Linked DNA regions of Homo sapiens. The protein of the gene in region 3 purifies or fractionates together with the protein of the main gene of each other region. This does not show direct contact. Each region holds a gene or a part of one and is shown on either strand. Other genes may lie near its edges.

Region 1 (7,250 bases), on a different chromosome or scaffold from region 3:
ATGCGGGATGCAATTTACTGGGGATAGGGGAGAAGAGAATGGTCTAGCTCTGGCCTGTTTTTGTAGCTAGGCCTATTAAATGTCAGCAGGACCAATTGAAAAATTAAAAATTCATTGAATTCAAAACATGCTGTGTTTTAAACCCAAACTGTACAACAGGTTGATTGAGGTCTATTGACTGGTGTAAGTGGTGTGTCCACTGGTGAGTAAAAGAATGCAAAAAGCAGTGTTGGCATTTGCCACACATCTTGTGTAACCTGGGCAATGTCACTCAATATTTCTAAGCCCATTTCCTCTTCTTTAAATTTTACCTGCTTCACAGGTTGTGGTAAGAATCCATATTACATACATGCTCCTGAAAAGGCCTTGTGAACTGTAAAGCATGATGCAAATATTCATTGTTTACTACCATCGTCCATAGCTAATGACCTTGGAGTGCTGTACTCATCTCCAGCTTTAAGTTCAGAGTAATAATTTATATAGGTATGTTCCCCAACACCTGTAGAGATAAAAGATCTGAAAAGAACTCTGTGAAAAATAAGTCTTTTGAAATCTCTAAAGTCTTAGGCTCTATTATGTGAAGTTAAACAATTCCATATTTTTTAAAAACCTCTATACTCAGGGTATCCAAATATATAGTTTTTGGAGCCACATACATGAAAACAATAGGACTCTTTTTAAAGAGTTTCACTTGAATGTCTTTGTAACATATAGATTTAGCCTCCATGCATAAGGGTCTAGGTAGAATTATTTTTAATACGGTTACAAAATTAAAAAGCAATAACAAATGGAACAGTCAAGGATACATTTTTCTCTGTGATATGTTTCAAATAGATTGCTGTCTTTCCTGCAGTGTCATAAAGAAATGAAGGATTTTTAATTTGTGGATCTAGGACATACAGCTTAATTCCAAAAAGAAAAGCTTCGTGGCTTAATTTTTAACGTTTTTATTCTTCAAAAGCTGTTAGAAGTCATACAAAGCAATAATTTTCACAGAACTTTAAATATCTCAGCATATGGTATTCTCTGTGTGTGTACAACTAAAGTTTAATATCACTTGGGAACTTGTTAAAAAAATTATTGTACATCAATTTGAAACAGGGATTAGAAAATTTCTTTATGTTATGACAATAGCAAGTTGAAATGTTTTTTAAAATTAGTCAATGAATGATTGTTATACTGTATTTTTTTAAAAACCAATTTTATATTTTCAATGGACTGATTTAACTTACTACTGGATTGCTGTTTTTGTGTGAACCTCTGAGCCTCAAGAATGGATGGGCCTCGTCTCCTGTATTTTTGGTAGATTCTGATTTGCATACAAATCTCTTAACATGCATGTCAATCTTTGAAAGAGAGATCTATAGAAAGCTGGTCAGATCCCAACTCTCATTCCTCACAAACAGGCTGGATAACATTTGTGTAAATCAGTTCAGCAGCGGTTCCTGCTGTCCTCATTATTTTCAGAGAAATCAGGGCAAAGCATACTGATGAATAAAAATAGACAGTGTTCCCTGTTTCCCTGCCCCTGCAGTCACCTCTATCAGGGATGTAGAGTGCGGAACACACCTTCCTTCTTCATCTGAATGCTTCATCCCGGGACCAAGAAAAGAAAACTACACCTTAGATACACACTCCACTCCCACCAGGGCCACTGCTTTTCGTCCAAAGAGGTACTCTTTACAGCACTCAATTACTACGTCTCCTGGTTCTGGCTACAGTTTTGAAACATGGAAAGTTTGACAAGGCATATATTGACTTTTACAAAGCCTATAGTATAATGAAAATGCTTGCCAGCTAAGCACCGCTGAGTTTTCCTGGCAGTTCTGTAAGTCAGTGGGGACCATTAATGGTCTGTATGCTGAGTCACCTATGATATATCCCTGCTTGTCTTTGATTGGGCAGCACCTAATATCTGACTTCTAAATAGAACTCTTTGACTTACTAAAAATTTGTCAATAGTAATATCACTCATTTAATAAGAAGGGATTCAGAGGAAAATCAATCACTATTCAGAGATAAGAGCTTTGTTTGTTCTTTTTAAAGGTCGAATAAGTGGGTAAAGCTCCATCGCAAAGGGAATTATCTTCTGTCCTGCAGCTAAAAATAATTCCTGAGAAGGGTGTAGAAAGATGTTCAGCTGTCTGAACTGACTAACTCCTTATTCACTCTGCTTTAAATATGCTGAGAGGAAAGAGGTACTCTTAGCGTTCTCATACTTCAGAACCTGGTGCCCACATAGAAAGGGACAGTGAGTGCTGCCCTCTACCCTGCTGAGTATGGGAATACTGTGACCAAAGTGAAGATTTAAAAAGATGGTTCTATCATTGATAGAACGTTATCATTGAGACCAAGCCTGGTGCTTAGGGAGAGGAGAAAATCATTTTAAACTTGTACTGTATAAAAACTCTGGCAATAATTTGCATTTTGGTAAATAAAGGAACTAGCATTATAGCTTCTCTCTGGCCCAAATTCTGATGATTTCTTGGCTTAGGGCTTCAATCAATCTGCAGCTGACCGACTGTAATCCTGGCCAGCACAGCTTCAAGGTCACAGTTATCATTTCTAGACTGTGGACATTTTATTGTTGCCACTATCGATGAAAACTGCCTTTCAGTATTTGCCTAGTTCAATATTCTTTCAGCACCCTCACCCCTCACAATTTATAAACAGAATCAGCAATACCACCAATGAAAAATGAATTTACAAGGAAGCTACACCCACTGGTTACAAGCCTACAAAGTTAAAAGTAGTCACTTCGAGTTAGGTATCAAGGAAATTTCCTTTAGAAAACCCAGTCGCCGGAGCTGCGTCCTTCTGCTTACCTGCTTTATGTATTTGTTTACTGCCTAAGGGAAGTCCCAGGCAGCCAGATGCAAGAATACAAAGCTCCTTGGAAGGTGGAAGGGGCGCCCGGTGTCCTCTGAGCTGCGATCTCAATTCCGATGCTTTTCATGTGGCTGAAATAGCTCTGTGCCTCTCCCGGTATTGAGAACTGCTCCTGGCTCGGGGCTGGAGGGGAACTTAAACCGTTAAGGCTAAGTGTTAAAGAGAATTCCTGTCATAGCTCACAGTTGTTCTTCCTAAATATAGAGTTTGATACAAGCCATACGCTGGCTGCCTCCGAAAGGCTTGACCGTGCGGAAAGCAGGCTCAAATGTCAGCCGGGAGGTGGCTATGGTATCTTACTTGCCCTCCTAATCTTCCAGAAGATGCTGGCTGCATTTTCTCATATATTCTGAGTGGGTATAGCAAAGTTCGAAAAGTAAGGAAAGTCTATCTTTAGCTTTATTACCTGGATGCCAGAAGATGAGTATTCAATAAAAATTGGGGGGTGTCAGCATGGTACCATGCCTCTCAGCAGGGGTACTGACATTAAACAGGGTTTGAATCCTAGCTTGGTCACTTGGGAGCTGTTAAAGTTACTTAATAATAAGTACTCAACAAATAGTCACCAAATGATGATAATTATCCTAGTAAGTTGAACTATATGACATTGCCCTTTTTGTAGGTCAAAAATGGTCCAAGATTGACAGGCTGGTGAGGTTCCAGGGCCTACAGCCCTGCCCACTCTGCTCTACTGCCTCTACTGGTGACAAAGATTTTGACCTTAGAGTACGTGAGACAACAGAACAAAGAAGAAATGTCTATTTTAAATATGGCAAGGGTCAGGAGCAGGTACAAGGCAAAACATTTTTTAAACAGAAAACTTCCAAATCCTAAGATACATGCTCACTATTTTTAACACCACTTTTAATTTTTTTAACCTCTCCACTCTCTGAAATTACCTTTACCCAGAGCTGTACTTCAGTAGAAGTATTAAACAGAGTGGAGAGACTTAAAATCCATCCACTGTGGAAGTGAGCTCCATGTCTGAGTTCTTGACAGCATGGTCAAGCCACTGAACTATATTACCAGCAACCATCGCTTACCAGTCTTCTTGTTACATGAGGAAAAGAAGCAGCTCCAATTTGTAGGAGCCCTAGACATCAGGCTTCTGTTCCCTGTAGCTGAATGCATTCCAGATGGAAGTAGTTGGGCTTTTTTCAGAACTGTAGAAGGAAAACCAACTTTCTGGGAGTTTAGGAGGTCAACAGATAATTGTGGTTCATTTTAGATTGGGGTTCACCATTAACTTCTGTTTAGGTGTTGTTCAAAAGAATTGTATCTTTAAAATTCAGTTTAGACATCATCCTTTGAGATCACATGGTGCCAAAAGTGAGTTATTTATACACTGGAGAAGAGAATATAGTGAGCACCTTAATATTTCTCCAGGTTTTTGGCTACTTCTGTGTGTTCAGAGCTCTTCACCAGACAAATGATGGCATCACTCCATGGACCAACAATGAGCCATTTTTGGCCCCTTGTCCTGAAGTTAGACCACACTTTCTGCCACAGTCCTTTTGCCCCGGTGGCCCCTCAGTAGCCACTGATGGTGTATATGTTGAGGAAACTGCTCCTGGCAGAAATGCCTTGTACACAGGGCTGGCCCAATATGAGTGTGGCTGCCTCTGTGGGAAAAACTAAAGTGAGCTGCATAACCAGGGCTCTGTTGGTCATAAGTCACAGTAACCCAAAGGGAACCAGTTTAAGCCAAGAGGGGTGTGGCAGACAGTCAATGCCTTTCTCAGTATCACTTCTGTCCACCTGAGTTCTGTAGTTGTAGGCAGCTTCCAGTATACTGTCAGCTTCACACCTCTCTCTTTTTCTCTACACTGGGACTCTGCACATCATCCAAAAGCAGGAGACATAACTCATAAGTGCCGGGAAACAACACCCCTAGGGATAAGCCTCAACCAATGGGAATGGAAGTTGAGTGATAGATGTCCCCACTTCCTCATCCTGTGGTCGGAATATTCTGAGGTGTGATCTACAGTTTCCCAGAGGTCCCCAGCAGGACTGAGCCCCAGTTGCCCACCATGGGGATTTGCTCATTAATATACCCTTATTGGCTTTCTCTTTTCCCTCACTTCCCCCACTCCCTTGCATTCTCTGGGATCATGCCCCAAGTAGATCACCTGCAACCAAGTCCTTGTCTCAGCATTTGGAGTTGAGGCAACCCGAACTAAGAAAAAGGAATTTATTAGGAAGGTTTCACATTGCAAGAGGAAGGGCAGGGCTGCAGGTGAACCTCATCAATAACCAGAACCAAGAACTCAGACCTCACTAGAGAGTGATGAATCTATTTCTGCAACTGCAATTTTAAAGACCTCAGGACTCTGGTTGCCCCAGCCTGAGTCAATACCGCACTCCTGGTTAGCGACAAGGTTACCGAGCACAGAGGAGGCCATTGGGGTACATACCTGTGCATTACGTCCTTCCCAGAAAGGGGAATAGTTCTGAGCTGAGCAGCTCTCCCAGTTGGGTCTCCAAGAGGCACCAAGAAGCCAAGTGCTTTTCCTTGACTTCTTGCAATAGCCTGAAATGTGTACTCCTATTGTCACGTTATTGGTTTAAGACTCCACAAAAACACATGTTGGCTGGTGCGGTGGCTCACGTCTGTAATCCCAGCACTTTGGGAGGCCCAGGCGGGCAGATCACTTGAGGTCAGGAGTTCAAGACTGGCCTGGCCAACATGGTGAAACCCCATCTCTACTAAAAAAATACAAAAATTAGCTGGGCATGGGGATGCGCATCTGTAATCCCAGCTACTTGGGAGGCTGAGGCAGGAGAATCGCTTGAACCTGGCAGGCGGAGGTTGCAGTGAGCCGAGATCATGCCACTGCACTCCAGCCTGGGCAACAGAGCGAGACTCTGCCTCAAAAACAAACAAACAAAAAAACACATGTTGTTTGGCAAGGGTAACAGAAGAAGTCTCTGACACACACCTACACATACCAGGTTGGTGAGTGACAATTAACTGGGCCTGAAGGGATGGGGCACAAGATGAGTCCATTTCTTTTTGAGAGGATTGAGATAGGAGGAGAAGTTGGAAAAACATAGCCTTAAAGTATGGAAAATGGAGAGCTAGAGGGTACTGGGCATTGAGGGGGTAGCTTGAGTCCTTTGGGCATATTTCAGTGGAGATCACAAAGAGGGGTATGGTGGCGGGGGTGTTGACAAAATCGAAATTCACTTAAGTCATTCCTACCTGCATGCCTTCATCCCTCCTCCACTATGGTCAAAGAGCAGGATATCTAACAACATCTTACATCTATGCAACCCTTGCTCAGTTGCAATGTGCTTTCATTTGTATTATTTTATTTAGTCCTCCCAACAGCCCTGTGGGTTCAGTGGCATTCTTCCAGTTTTATCGATCAGTAAGCCAAGGCTCAGACTATCATTTCAGAGCCAGTTATCCCCAGCTTTTGACTCTCAAAGTTAGTGCTCTTTCCTGTTATACCACAGTGCCCTCAAGGAACCACACTCATCTGTATGCCCCACATAAGCACATACAAATATGGTAACAGGATGCATCTGCTTGCAAGTTAACAGAAAACCTAACTAGCAGTGGCTCAATCAACAGTCATTTGATCATCTCACAAACCTAGGAACTTAAAGGAAGGTAGTTATGGGCTGGTTCGGAAATTCTACGAAGTCAAAAACTCTCAGGCTCTTCCCAGATCCTCTTTGGGAAGGAGGATCTACTCTGCCACTCTCAACAAGTCAGCTTTTCATCCTCATGCTTCTTAACTTATGTTCCCAAGATGGCTGCCACAGCTCCAAGTATTAGGACATTTTACGAGCATCCAAACAAGAAGGAATAGCAGTGATGGTGGGAAAAGGGGCTTTTCTTCTCAAGGAGGAAACTCTTTCCCAGAAGCCCCAAGCTGACTTCCCCTCACATCTCTTTGGCTGGAACTGGGTCTCGTGGCTGCAAAGGAGGCTGAGAAAAGAAATAAATGGCAGCAGGTGAATGGAATAGAAATGATTAGCTAAGATCAAATGTCCCATATAAAATTGGGATGCTCTTAGCAATGAAGAAGAAAGGAAACAGCAGTGACACAGACAAAACGTGCACACACATACAGAGCTTTAATGGAAAATGTGCTTCCAAACACATAATCTCATTTAATTCTCACCACCTTATGAAGCAGGTATTGTTTGTTTATCTCCACTTTATAAATGACAAAACACACTGGAAAAGGTCAAGTCATATGCCTAGGAAGTGGCTGAGTCAAAACTCTAATCTAGGTCTGCAGGCTCCAAATTCCATGTGTTTCCCCTATTCTTCCATGCACAAACCAACAGGAGGAGCCAGGCTGCTCATACCATTGTCCCATCTGTGAATGCCCTCTTGGCATGTGCCC
Region 2 (7,164 bases), on a different chromosome or scaffold from region 3:
GACCATCCTGGCTAACACGGTGAAACCCCGTCTCTACTAAAAATACAAAAATTAGCCAGGCATGGTGGCGGGCGCCTGTAGTCCCAGCTACACGGGAGGCTGAGGCAGGAGAATGGCGTGAACCCGGGAGGCGGAGCTTGCAGTGAGTCGAGATCGCGCCACTGCACTCCAGCCTGGGCGACAGAGCAAAACTCCGTCTCAAAAAAAAAAAAAAAAAATATATATATATATATATAAAATCTTAAAAAAAATATATATATATATATAATAGATATAATTTTTTTTTTGAGACAGAGTCTCACTCTGTCACCCAGGCTGGAGTGCAGTGGCACGATCTGAGCTCACTGCAACCTCTGCCTCCTGGGTTCAAACGATTATTTTGTCTCAGCCTCCCTAGTAGCTGGGACTACAGGCACGTGCCATCAAGCCCAGCTAATTTTTGTATTTTTAGTAGAGACGGGGTTTCACTATGTTGGCCAGGGTGGTCTCAAACTCTTGGCCTCAAATGATCTGCCCGTCTCAGCCTCCCAATGTGCTAGGATTACAGGCATGAGCCACTGCACCCGGACTAATTTTTTTTTTTTTAAGTAGAGACAGGGTTGCGCTGTGTTGCCTGTGCTGGTCTCAACCTCTTGGGCTCAAACAATCCTCCCACCTCAGCCTCCCTAAGTGCTGGGATTACAGGTGTGAGCCACTATGCCTGGCCTCCAGCGCTCATTCTATGGAAGATGTCACCCAAACCAGTGAAACCAGTGGCTCCTAAAGATGGTGATCCTTTGAGGAATTTCTGTAAAAATATAGATTTCTAAGCCCTGTCTCTGGATATTCTTTTTCAACAAATCCAAGGACTAAGATTTATCTGTATTTTTACCAGGTGATTCTGGTGACCTGCCAGGTTGGAACCAGCTGATGGTATGTGTTTTTTTTTTTTTTCATGCAGACAGCATGGAGACTTTTATTTTACTTCTGGAGATGGGGGTCTCACTATGTTGCTCAGGCCGGAGTGCAATGGCTATTCACAGGCATGATCATAGGTCATTGCAGCTGGAAACTCCAGACCTCAGGCAATTCTCCTGTCTCGGCCTCCTGAATAGCTGGTGTGCACCACTGAGCCCAGCAGGCATGGAGATTTTGGACTGTTCCTGCACATGGAAGCGGGAAGCATTAAGAAAGCTGTCTAGGAACTCTGCACAGGTATTTCGCCTGCCAGGCCTGCTTCTGGTGATGAGGCAGGAGTGAGCCCTTAAGCTGGGTGTCCCACAAACGCTGGAAAGTGGAGGGTTCTGCTCTGAGGCACAAAAGCTGACAGCAGCAATTAATGCCCCCCTCCTGGACTACAAACTCCCTGAGGGCACATCTGCTTTCAGCTGGATGAGTGTCTGAACCCAGGACAAGTTGGCACTCACGGTAGACAGACACGAGGTTATACAGGGCCCAGGTTGCCCAGTGCTGGCTGACAGGAGAGATTCCCTGGGGAAGGAGGCGGAGAATTGGTTCAAATGACCTGCAGGAAAAGAAATCAAGGTCACTGTGGATGCTGAGGGTGGGGAGTGTGTCTTTTCTTGTCTGAGGTTTCCTCCCACTGGAGAATCCTAGTGACCAACCATGATAGGCTGGCAGGATGCCAGGGAGAAGGGACAGCTGGCCCTGCATCCCACTGGCAGGCTGCACAACAAGGTTCCCTTGGAGAGGATAAAGGCACAAGCACATGAGGGAGGCACAAGGGACCCAGATTAGGAGGAGCAGAAAGCTGGAGACCTCAGCAAGGAGCAGAGACCCAGCCTGTGGGGAAGAGGGGAGAGGCACCCTGGGAACAGAAGCACGTGTGACCTGGTTTTTTTTTTTTTTTTTTTTTTTTTTTTTTTTGTGAGACGGAGTTTCGCTCTGTTGCCCAGGCTGGGGTGCACTGGTGCAATCTCCACTCACTGCAACCTCTGCCTCCTGGGTTCAAGCGATTCTCCTGCCTCAGCCTCCTGAGTAACTGAGACTACAGGGGTGTGCCACCACACCCAGCTAATTTTTGCATTTTTTTTTCTTTTGAGACAGAGTCTTGCTCTGTCGCTCAGGCTGGAGTGCAGTGGCATGATCTCGGCTCACTGCAAGCTCCGCCTCCCTGGTTCACGCCATTCTCCTGCCTCAGCCTCCCGAGTAGCTGGGACTACAGGCGCCTACCACCAAACCCGGCTAATTTTTTTGTATTTTTTAGTAGAGACGGGGTTTCACCGTGTTAGCCAGGATGGTCTCGATCTCCTGACCTCGTGATCCACCCACCTCAGCCTCCCAGAGTGCTGGGATTATAGGCGTGAGCCACCGCGCCCGGCCTAAATTTTGTATTTTTGGTAGAGACAGGGTTTCACTATGTTGGCCAGGTTGGTTTCGAACTCCTGACCTCAAGTGATCCACCTGCCTTGGCCTCCCAAAGTGCTGGGATTATAGGCGTGAACCACCATGTCCAGCCCTTTTTTCTTTGTTTTTTTTTTTTTTGAGACGGAGTCTCACTCTGTCGCCCAGGCTGGAGTTCAGTGGTGCAATCTCGGCTCACTGCAACCTCTGCCTCCTGGGTTCACATGATTCTCCTGCCTCAGCCTCCCGAGTAGCTGGGACTACAGGTGCATGCCACCATGCCCAGCTAATTTTTGGTTAGAGCATCATTTTGCTGTTGGCCAGGCTGGTCTTGAACTCCTGACCACCCGCCTTGGCCTCCCAAAGTGCTAGGATTACAGGCGTGAGCCACCATGCCTGGCCTTTTTTTTTTTTTTTTTGGAGAAAGGGTCTCGCTCTGCTGCCCAGGCTGGAGTGCAGTGGCATGATCACAGCTCACTGCAGCCTTGACCTTCCAGGCCATGCAAGTGTTCCTCCCACCTCAGCCTCCTGAGGAGCTGGGACTATAGGTGTGAGCCACCATGCCTGGCTAATTAAAAAAAAATTTTTTTTGGCCAGGTGCAATGGCTCACACCTGTAATCCTAGCACTTTGGGAGGCTGAGGGGGGTGGATTGCCTGAGCTCAGGAGTTTGAGACCAACCTGGGCAACACAGTGAAACCCCGTCTCCACTAAAGTACAAAAAATTAGTTGAGCATGGTAACGTGCACCTGTAATCCCAGCTACTCGGGAGGCTGAGACAGGAGAATCGCTTGAACCTGGGAGACGGGGGTTGCAGTGAGCCAAGATCACACCATTGCACTCCAGCCTGGGTGACAGTGCGAGACTCCGTCTCAAAAAAAAAATTTTTTTTTTTGTAGAGGTGAGGGCTCACTATATTGCCCAGGCTGGTTTCAAACTCCTGAGCTCAAGTGATCTTCCTGCCTTGGCCTCCCAAAGTGGCTGGGATTCTAGGTGTGAGCCACCGCATCCGGCCTGTGACTGCTCTTCTGACGAGGGCCTTCTGTGGGCCAGCCTGGAGTCATGGTCCAAAAGCCTGAAACACGTGTGTGCAAAACTCCTGGGCCAGCGATTCCGCTTCCTTTCTCCCCAAGAACTATAGTACTTGGCACACTGGCAACGCTACCAATGTCAGCCTGTTCCTCCCAGTATGGGTTTTCAACTGAAATGTCCATCTGTACAGGATGGCACAAAGAAAGTGACTCCGTCCTAAAATGACGAGGGAGATCCATGCCTGGTGATTGGCCAGTCAGTCACAAAACAGTAGGAATTGATGCCAGCTTGACTTAAAGTAATGAAATCTGTGCATAGAAACACTGCTGGAAGGAGACACACCAAAATGTCAACAGGAGTTCTCTTTCAGGGAGTGAGATTATGAACGATTCTTGTTTTCTTCTTCTTCTTTTTTTTTTGAGATGGAGTATCACTCTGTTGCCCAGGCTGGAGTGCAGTGGCGAGTTCTTGGCTCACTGCAACCTCTGCCTTCCAGGTTCAAGTGATTCTCCTGCCTCAGCCTCCCAAGTAGCTGGGATTACAGGTGCCCACCACCATGCCTGGCTAATTTTTGTATTTTTAGCAGAGATGGGGTTTCACTGTGTTGGCCAGGCTGGTTTCGAACTCCTGACCTCAGGTGATCCGCCTGCCTCAGCCTCCCAAAGTGCTGGGATTACAGGTGTGAGCCACTGTGCCCGGCCCTGTTTTGTTTTCTTGTTTTTTTTATTCATTTTTATTTTTATTTTTATTTATTTATTTTTGAGACGGAGTCTCGCTCTGTCGCCCAGGCTGGAGTGCAGTGGCGCGATCTTGGCTAACTGCAAGCTCCGCCTCCCAGGTTCACGCCATTCTCCTGCCTCAGCCTCCCGAGTAGCTGGGACTACAGGCGCATGCCACCACGCCCGGCTAATTTTTTGTATTTTTAGTAGAGGTGGGGTTTCACTGCGTTAGCCAAGATGGTCTCGATTTCCTGACCTCATGATCTGCCCGCCTCTGCCTCCCAAAGTGCTGGGATTACAGGTGTGAGCCACTGTGCCCGGCCCTGTTTTGTTTTCTTGTTTTTTTAATTTATTTTTATTTTTATTTTTATTTATTTATTTTTGAGACGGAGTCTCGCTCTGTCGCCCAGGCTGGAGTGCAGTGGCGCGATCTCGGCTAACTGCAAGCTCCGCCTCCCAGGTTCACACCATTCTCCTGCCTCAGCCTCCCGAGTAGCTGGGACTACAGGCGCATGCCACCACGCCCGGCTAATTTTTTGTATTTTTAGTAGAGGTGGGGTTTCACTGCGTTAGCCAAGATGGTCTCGATTTCCTGACCTCATGATCCGCCCGCCTCTGCCTCCCAAAGTGCTGGGATTACGGGTGTGAGCCACCGCGCCTGACCTTCTTCTTTTTTTTAAAGAAATGGTCTCATTCTGTCCCCTAGGCTGGAGTGCAGTAGCATGATGTTGGCTCACTACAGCCTCGACCTCCTGGGCTCAAGTGACCCTCCTGCCTCAGCCTCCCCAGTAGGTGGGACTACAGGTGTGCACCATCACACCCAGCTCATTTTTTTTTTTTTTTTTTTTTGAGATGGAGTCTTGGTCTGTTGCCCAGGCTGGAATGCAGTGGCGCCATCTCGGTTCACTGCAACCTCTGCCTCCTGGGTTCAAGCGATTCTCCTGCCTCAGCCTCCTGAGTAGCTGGGATTACAGGTATGTGCCACCACGCCAGGTTAATTTTTGTATTTTTAGTAGGGACGGGGTTTCACCATGTTGGGCAGGCTGGTCTTGAACTCCTGACCTCGTGATCTGCCCGCCTCAGCCTCCTAAAGTGCTATGATTACAGGCGTGAACCACTGCACCTGGCCTGATTTTTAAAATTTTTCGTAAAGAGGAAGTCTCACTATGTTGCCCAAGCTGGTCTTGAAATCTTGGGCTCAGCTGGACGCAGTGGCTCATGCCTGTAATCCCAGCACTTTGGGAGGCCGACGTGGGCGGATCACGAGGTCAGGAGATCGAAACTATCCTGGCTAACACGGTGAAAACTCGTCTCTACTAAAAATACAAAAAAATTAACCGGGCGTGGTGGCGGGTGCCTGTAATCCCAGCTACTCTGAGGCTGAGGCAGGAAAATGGCGTGAACCCAGGAGGCAGAGCTTGCAGTCAGCTGAGATTGCACCACTGCACTCCAGCCTGGGCGACAGAGCAAGACTCTGTCTCAAAAAAAAAAAAAAAAGAAAAGAAAGGAAATCTTGGGCTCAAGTGATCCTCCTGTCTCAGCTTCCCAAAGTGCTGGGATTATGGGCAAGAGCTACTGTGCCCGGCCCACCTGTATGGTTTTCTGTTGTGTGTCTATTTTCTCCCCACCCCTCCCCACAAATCAGTAGGTATTAGTGGTTTGCAAAGAGCAGGCTTTGGGTACATGCAGATGTTGGCATGTATGACAAATGCTCCAGGCTGCACGGATGAGATCGTGCCCTTATGTATGCTCTGTGCTGTGTGCGGCTACGTATCAATGAGTGAAAGCAGAACCCTACAGAAGACCAGAAGGAAGGTGGGAGCTCTGAGCAGACCTTAATGGTATGAGCATCCTGCCCAGCACTTACCCCATATTCCACACCGCATCCCCGCTCCCTGCCCTGCCCACACCTGTAATTGATGTTTCTCCGAGAGTTTATGTCCCAGCTCTGGATGGCAGCCCACATGCGTTCCTCCACCTCCTCACGCTGGGGCTCACAGACGCCCCAGGCCTCGGGTCCATCAAACATGATGTGGGAGAGGACGCCGCAGGCATTGTAGGAAACCTCGATCCCATCGGCCTTGCTCTCCAACAGGTTGCTGCCAGGAGAAAGACAGAAAAATGGAGTCCCACTCCCCCAGTTTCTCTTCAGATACCAGCGGCAGGACCCCAACTTAAAACCAGAAGCAAGAGGTGCTACTTATTTCTTTATCCCATATCGTCTATATACCCAGACTACTTCTAAAGGGATTTGAGGTCATTTAAGATATAATTACAGGCTGGGCGCAGTGGCTCACGCCTGTAATCCCAGCACTTTGGGAGGTCAAGGCAGGTGGATCACGAGGTCCGGAGATCGAGACCATCCTGGCTAACATGGTGAAACCCCATCTCTACTAAAAATACAAAAAAATTAGCTGGGCGTGGTGGCAGGCGCCTGTAGTCTCAGCTACTCGGGAGGCTGAGGCAGGAGAATGGCGTGAACCCGGGAGGCAGAGCTTGCAGTGAGCCTAGATTGTGCCACTGCACTTCAGCCTGGGTGACAGAGCAAGACTCCATCTCAAAAAAAAAAAAAAAGATATAATTACAAAAGGACCACTTACGAAGGATTGAATGAATAAGAAACCACATTATCGAGGGAAAATGACATTTATAGCAAACCTAGGCTAAGAGCAGTTGTGCAACTGAGCAAACGCTAGAGCTCTGAGCATTGTGGCAGCTAAGGCAAAAAGGGAAAGGATTAAAAATACCAACCTGAAGACGCTGATGAACTGGGAAGTCATTAGTTGAGGCCTCAGCTCCTTCACTTCTGCCACATTCCCCAAAAGTCCTAGCATATTCCTATGCAGTTCCTGCTTCTCTGGGAATTCCTGGGAAAAGGAGAGCCAATGGGCCGCATCAATTAGTACTTAATGACTTAGTATCTGGTATTGTTAACCAAAAAGCTTCATGGGCATCTGGCCATGCCAACTAGACAAAGAGGGGGCATATATGCTGCCCTCCTACCCTCCAATGCTCCTAGGTCAGTGCTGGGTACACACACTAAGGAATTAAAGGGGTGGGATTGCTTGCCA
Region 3 (7,624 bases):
AACTATAGAGATTATGAGGCAGCACCTCATTTTACAGATAAGGAAACTGAGTCTCAGAAAATGAATGACCTTGCCAAAGCACATTCTGACAGAGGAAGAAGCAGAATTTCCCTAGTCCAGTGATAATTCCACCCCTCTGCTGCCTCCTCTGATTCCAGAGCCCCACTGACCACCCAGTGTCTTAACACAACAAAGAAAGAGTACTCTGACAAAATTGAGAGGGCCTGTCTCTCAGCTTTTCCTGGTCAGCAAGTCCTTTGACGAAGCTGGATCCTGCATTAGTGAGGAGGACTTTCATCATGTTTCTCTCCAGTGTCCCTTGAAAACAGCTAGTTTCCTGGCCAAGGGCTAGTTTCCCAGTCTGCCTATGTTACAGAATTTTCCCTTTTGTGAAATAAAACCTCCCAAATAGGAATAAATACATAGACATGTCCTTTTGGGCTAAGGGCTTGTTGTTCTCACTTGTTAAGATAATCACAAAGATGAAAACGCAAGATCTAAGTGTCCAAAATCCAGTGGCCTAAAAGAGTTAACGATGATCACAGCAGACTTGCTATGAGACAGTTAAGTGTAATTTGCATGTCTTGTACCAAAGAAGTGACATCTGCCTAGCTACATTTCTGCAAAAACATTTTGTGGGCCAAAGAAAATACCTAAACAAAACATGTCCGTGGTATTCTGGTCCAAATACTGACAGCTTGCATCCCTTATTTTAGATAAAGGAAAAGTAATCATTTTTGTAGCCTTATTCCCCCCTTAAAGCTACAGATACTTAGAGCCTCTAGAAATTCGAAGATAAAGAACCTCTAGGGACACTTTGTCTAAGAATCAAGCTGCAGTGAGGATGTTAATTATCTTAGAATCTAAGTCAGGTAGTGTAGTAGTTTTCAATTATTTTATGGGGGGTGGGGATTCAGGGCCCTTTCTTCAAGCATGATATTGTATGGCACTCCACTACTTAAAATAGTCAAAGCTGAACTTTATGTTGTCAACTACCCCAAATAGTCCCTTTAACCCTAATGGTGACTCCTGACTTGCCTCTATAGAACCTCTGTGCTCTGGGGACAGCAGTTTGAGAATCCACAGCCTTACTGGATTCTCACAATTGACAGACAGGAACTGGAGGTTCTGTGATGGGATGGGACTAGTCCAAGCTGGCAGAGCAGGTGACTCTACCCTGTCTGATTGTGCAACAGTCAGTTTTCTATCCCCACCTGCTGTTCTGGGTGGGAATAATTATAAATTACAGCTTATAGAGATTTAAGCTGGATCCTGGAAAGTAGAAGCGTTTGTAGTAGAGAGCACTGACTCCAGATCTCATTTTCTTCTTATGAGGTACTCACAAGCTCTCGGTACACAAGTGACATTCATTCCCATAGGTGATGTAGTCAGAACCACAAACTGGTAGGTATGTGATGGGGCAGGGGATGGCCACCACTGGATACTTCTTGTAAATGCTGCAGTCCACCTGTGTCATATACAAGCAAATGTCCTGTTTTTCTCCCAGACCCCAAGCTAGGCCACTATTAGATATACTACAAGGGCTGGAAGTCCCAGCTCAGATATTCAGATGTTGCTTGGCCACTTCTTTAAGTACTAGTGTTATCACTATGACAAATACTAGCACTACTGGTATTCTATTTTTTTCTGCTACACTCAGTTAACAATTGCTGGGCATTTCTGGGCTAGGCGTTAAACTTAAATCTTGCATGAATTTTCTTGTTTAATCTTCAGAACAACTAGAGTAAATTCTACTATTACCTCTCTTTACAAATGTGAAAATTAAAGCTTAGAAATAGAGATAACTTGTTGAAGATAAATGCTGGTAAGTAGTAGAGTTAGGATTTGAATCTAGAGCCTGTGCAATTTATCAGGGTACTTTTGCTCTGCCTTTTACACGTTATGCCTTTTATGAAAACATCACCAACTTCTCAGCTGGAAGGCGGTTCTCCCTTCTTTAACTCTGGCATTTTTAAAAAACATTTTTAAAATATGGTTGTTTATATGTATGTCATATTTGTTTAGTTGCCTTCTGGAGAACAGGTACCATTTCTCCATGTGTGTTTGCCTCCCTCTCGAATCCCCCTAAACATAATTTATCCTACATATATGTTGACTAAATGACAGTCAATAGTTATTGACATTAAAATGTTATTCAACATACTTACTTTTTTTGGAGACAGACTAGCAGCTTCTGAAAAAGAGATACAGATGAAGATGTTAAAAGTAAAGCAAACTTTAAATCTCATTAATTAATATAAGTTTCATCCTATATAATTACTCTACATTTCCTTTAGCAATGAGATTCAGCACACTCTCCATCCTTATGCAAAATCCTAGTTGTTTGCTGAGGAAGTTGAATGGCCAATGGGTTAGGTTAACCCTTGGTTTAGGTAAGAGAATTATAAAAATTTCCTCTATTTATTGATCATGGAATGTTTTCTGAACCTCATAGTGTTTTTGATAATGGCCAAAGTCAAGTAGCAATAAGAAGTATTAAAATCATCACTCCTAAGAGCCTGAAGGATCATCTCTGATATCCTTTCCTTCCCAATTGACATAAAGAAATGCAATTGAATGTCTTTATGTGGTTGGAAACACTTTAATTAATTTTTCACAGTATAAAAGTCTAATTGTTGACCCTTGGCTTTTTGAGACTTGTGTTTTATTTTAATCCCCCCAAACTGATTTGGGAAGACATCCAAGTTTTTCTGTATCTTTGCACTAAGAAATGGTATATCTAATAACACTGACAACTTCCAGTGTCCATATGAACATAGAAATGGAAGACTTACAGAGAAATTAGATCATTTTTTGTTCTATGGATGCAAATAAGAATCCTTGAAAGTGAAGACATTGGACTCAAGTCTCTCAAACTCCAGATGGAACATAAGATCCTATTACAAACCAGTACACTTTAAATTCTTACAACCAGATGTTTCTGAGATGCTCACATCGCAGGAGGGATTATTTATGAAAACAATCTTAATGGCTATATAGGGCACTGTCTGACCTTAACTTACCTGAGCTGCTACAGAAATAGACCACTGTACAGAGCAGAAGGAGACCCCCAGTGATCTTCATGCTGGAAATGGCTGTGGTGTAGAAGCTGCTCTGAGATTGTCACTACAGCTGCATCGACCATATCCCAGGTAAGGGGTCATGTTTATATATATGCAAGGCTTGGTTTCTCCGCCTTTCCTGTGAGGTCATCCAGAGGATCTCAAAGCACGGTGCCACACCCTGGGCTGTGTTACAGTCCTTGTTACTGAACTGCCACTTCTTATCTGACCAATGATTTGATTATTTGAGGTAAGAAGTATTTTCTATCTTCCCCAAAGGTGGGACTGTTAAGAATTCTAAACTTCATGAACTAGAAGAGACTAAGTATGAGCTTCTTGACTTAGTTATGAAATAAGTGAAAATCTCAAACCTCCTTTATTTTACGAAACTGGAATCTATTAAACCCCGATTAGACTGATTACACCTACGTTTATATCTTGGCACCTGGGGAAATATTGTTTATTTTTGAGGCAATGAACCAATGAAGCAAACTGGGACCTAATGGAAGGAACACTGACATTAGCATTTATGAGGTATGGAGAAAAGCACTAACATAATACTTCTGATATTTTCTACCTGTATAATCTTGGATAAGTCGTTATATGCTGTGAGCCTTTATCAATCCAAAAGGCTTGGTTATGTCGTGATAACATGTAACCACAAGATTTCTGTGAATTAAAACAAAACTTTGTTTCTTACTCAAGCTACACTTGTATGGTAGTCAGCTGTTCATGCTACATTGCCTTCACTGTGGATGCCAAGTGGGCAGAGTCATCACTATTTGGAACACTGTAGTCAAGGTGAAGTGAAGTTGAGTTCGTTCTCAAGGAGTTCTCATTTTAGCAATTAAAACTTCCAGCCCAGAGCAATACTGCTGTCACTTCCCCTCATGGTCTCGTGGCCATCACATGCTTTGTTATGTATGGAGTGAGTGCAATCAATCTGATGTGGTTTAGCTGTGTCTCCACCCAAATCCCATCTTGAATTGTAGCTCCCATAATTCCCATATGTTGTGGGAGGGACCTGGTGGGAGATAATTGAATCATGGAGGCAGTTTCCCCCATACTGTTCTCATGGAAGTGAATAAGTCTCACAAGATCTGATGGTTTTATAAGGGGTTTCCCCTTGCACTTGGCTCTCATTCTCTCTTGCCTGCTGCCATGTAAGACATGCCATTCACTTTCTGCCATGATTGTGAGGCCTCTTCAGCCATGTGGAACTGTGAGCCCATTAAACTTCTTTTTCTTTATAAATTACCCAATCTTGGGTATGTCTTTATCAGCAGCTTGAAAACAGATTAATACACAGTCTTACCTTGTCCTGACCTGTTCCCTGACCTGAAGGTTGGATGAAGAACTAGAATAGTTGGCAAACAACAGAGACCATCCCAGAGACTGAGTTTCATCCCAGTCCAATAGGGCCTGTTGTTAGCCACAATAGAGTTCACATAATTGGAATCATATACATAAAAGTCTGCTCTAAAGCACAGTGCATTTAATAATATTATTGTGATTGTTATTATTATTTACAAACCAAGAGTTAATGCTATGAGTTGCTGACATTAGATTGTAAACTGTATTGTCCATGCACAACTGTCCAAATAGCTGCAGTTTGCTTATTGAGTTTAAGGACATATGTATGAAGACCTGGGGGAAGGCAGTAGACTGTCCCACTAGTTTACTGCTTGGCAGGTTTATTTTAGTACATTCTAAAACTAGCATCTACAAGACATATTAAGTGACTAATAAATGATATTGCATAATCTCTAATATTTTACTCCTATATCTGTTTGGGAGGCAATGTAATCTAGTAGTTAAGAGCATGGGCATTGAGTAGATCCCATTTAGAATCTTTCTTCTAAAAAATGTTGACTGTGTGTCTTTTAGTATTTAGGTTAACATCTGATACTTTAGTGTCTTCATCCTTATGACAGAAATAATATTTACCTCATAGGTTGTTTTGAGTGTTAAATTAGATTTTACAGACACACACTCTCTCACACACACACATTATACATTCAACTCTTGAACAACATGGCGTCCGGGGTGCTGACACCACCACAGTTGAAAAATTAACATACAATTTTTTTATTTTTCAATAATTTAACTATTAATATCCTTAATATCCTACTGTTGACCTTATTAATAACATAAACAGTTAATCTACACGTTTTGTATGTTACATGTATTATACACTGTATTCCTACAACAAAGTAAGCTAGAAAAAAGAAAATGTTATTAAGAAAATTGTAAGGAAGATAAAATATATTTACATTAATTAAGTGGAAATGGATCATCATAAAAGTTTTCATCTTTGTTGTCCTCATCTTGAGTAGACTAAGGAGAAGAAGAAAGAGGAAAAGTTGATTTTACTGTCTCAGGAGTGGCAGAGGTAGAAGAAAATCTATGTATAAGTCAACATGTGCAGTTCAGACCAATTTTATTCAAGGGTCAACTGTGCATATAATCTCTTATGGATGCATGTCTGTGAGGTGTCTGTGTGGTATGCTTGTGTGGTTTGTATGTATTTGTGTATTAGGGCACCAAGCTCATAATTAGATCTTGATATATGGTAGCTAATAATATGGAATGTGCTCTTTATAACAACTCATTAAGGAAGGAGTTTTTGTTACCCTAGTTTTGCCAGTGAGTAAGTTAAGACTCAGAGGATTTAAGTAATCTCCCAAGGATCATGATACAATTAATGGAGGAAACTGCTGAGTTCAGTCAAGGAAAAGAAGCAAAGTGAAGGTTCCAATAAGGAGAGGTAATTGTAGGTTTCATTGTTTGCCATGAATGTTTGAAAAGAATGAATCCTAAGAAAAAGCCATTGTGTTTCAAGATGAGGTATCTTTATTGCAGTTTGAAAATGTGCTTTTATCAAAGAGGAGTGGGAATAGGGTCAAAGGGTGGTCAAAATGGTGGTAAAAGATAGGATCACAGATTTTTTTTTAAATTTTTGATAGTCAAAGGAGGAATGGAAGAAGCTGAGGCTACAGAAAGATCTAGGATAGACTGAGCATGTCTTAAAACCAAAGAGAAGAAGAAATTTTACATACATGGTAGAGAGTGGCTAATTAGATGCATGTAGAAAGATAGAAAATAAGGTTAAGAGCACAGATGAAAAACCATTTTCTCTGACACATGAGAGAGAGAAGAGTGGATAAATGTAGAGACAGGCATATTTTGAAGGGTAAGGAAGGAGAGATGGGGGAAGCCCACTGTAAGGTAGGCTCTAGTTGTTCAGTGCTGGTTTGCTTTTTTGCACTGGGAGAACTGGGTTCGTTTGGGAGCTTGAGACAGATGATAGAAGACTTGGCAGCATGTCAGATAGTCAGCAATGGATCTAAAGATTAATGGCCACTGGACAAGTTAGAACTAGATTTTAGAAGGCCCAATTAGTACTATTCCTCGTATTTCTCCCAAAGTTTGTGCGACACAGAGTGAGAAATGGGGAACAGTGATTTTATAGATAGGGAATGGATACATCAGAGGCTTGAAGATACCATAAAGACTGCATTAGGAGGTGGCAAAGCTTGAAAGAGAGTTAAATGTTCCAGAAGTTTCTGATGGGCTACACAAGGTACAGGCATTTAAGTGTTTAGAGATCAAGGTTTAGGCAAAATGTGGTAGGTATAGGAAATAAGAACAATTGTTTATTGAGACAGGGCTAGGAATCAAGTTGTCGGATACTATTTCTCAGGGGTGGGGCTGAGATAATGATCCTCAGGGTGTATCCAGTGGGTGGAGATAAACGTCTCTCGATTGAAAAGGATGAGGAAAGGTGAGGTCAAGGGATCAGGAGAGGGGTTGGTTTGGGTTTTGGAAGCCATTTACATAGAGAGGAAATTTTCCAGCCAGATACTGAGGCACAAATTATGGAGGAGGCTTTTAAAATGAGAGTCAAAGCCTGTGAAGATAAAAGCAGTCCATTTCAGGATAGTTTTTTCATTTATCCTTATAGTTCTCCAAGGAGAAAATCTTGAGGCCTTGTAAGAGAGAATAACTATGGTCCTGGTTTCATCATGAAGAAGGCAGAATAAAATTAGCTCTTTTCCCATTTAGAAAAAAAAAGTGCAGCTTGCTGCCGGCATTCATTTATTTTTACATAAACATGCTCTTTGAGGCTGAAGTAAATCTAATTTTCAATGTGAAAATAAAATACAAAAACTGTTCTTGGAGTTATTTCTAAACAGAACTTATCTCTAATCCTAATGTAACAGAAATGTAAATGATGATCAGTATTTAGTAGTTTTTTTTTAATTTGGTAAATTTCAAAGCACAGAACAACACAAAGCAGAACATCATATTATACACAAAAATATTCCGTTTCTCTCCAGATCTTGCTATGCTTGTCATTGTGTAAGCAGCAAACTTGCAGTGACCAGTTGGATTCCACCCCCCTGATGTTGGTGGTGTGCTCTTGGGGAGATGTCTTCCAGACAGGCAAAGAAGAGTGACATCATCAGAGCATGGACGACCTCAAAGATATTCCAGCTATGGTCTGTGATATTTTTCCAGCATTCTTTCAATCGATGTCAGTCTGAAGTTTACATGGCTAA

What was found.
Region 1: the proteins of SPINK7 (region 3) and SMPX purify together in Homo sapiens (affinity purification with mass spectrometry; 2 studies listed by BioGRID and IntAct, with this or other methods). This does not show direct contact.
Region 2: the proteins of SPINK7 (region 3) and ZER1 purify together in Homo sapiens (affinity purification with mass spectrometry; 2 studies listed by BioGRID and IntAct, with this or other methods). This does not show direct contact.

The regions. Positions count from the first base shown.
Region 1 is NC_000023.11:21,755,117-21,762,366, forward strand, and holds the start of SMPX (small muscular protein), read right to left. Parts: upstream 3,001-7,250; 5' UTR 2,826-3,000; intron 1-2,825. UniProt on the Homo sapiens protein: Plays a role in the regulatory network through which muscle cells coordinate their structural and functional states during growth, adaptation, and repair.
Region 2 is NC_000009.12:128,733,928-128,741,091, forward strand, and holds part of ZER1 (protein zer-1 homolog), read right to left. Parts: intron 6,961-7,164; coding exon 6,845-6,960; intron 6,193-6,844; coding exon 6,004-6,192; intron 1,505-6,003; coding exon 1,407-1,504; intron 1-1,406. UniProt on the Homo sapiens protein: Serves as substrate adapter subunit in the E3 ubiquitin ligase complex ZYG11B-CUL2-Elongin BC. Acts to target substrates bearing N-terminal degrons for proteasomal degradation with the first four residues of substrates being the key recognition elements.
Region 3 is NC_000005.10:148,307,944-148,315,567, reverse strand, and holds the start of SPINK7 (serine protease inhibitor Kazal-type 7 precursor), read right to left. Parts: upstream 3,146-7,624; 5' UTR 3,085-3,145; coding exon 3,024-3,084; intron 2,195-3,023; coding exon 2,169-2,194; intron 1,469-2,168; coding exon 1,344-1,468; intron 1-1,343. UniProt on the Homo sapiens protein: Probable serine protease inhibitor.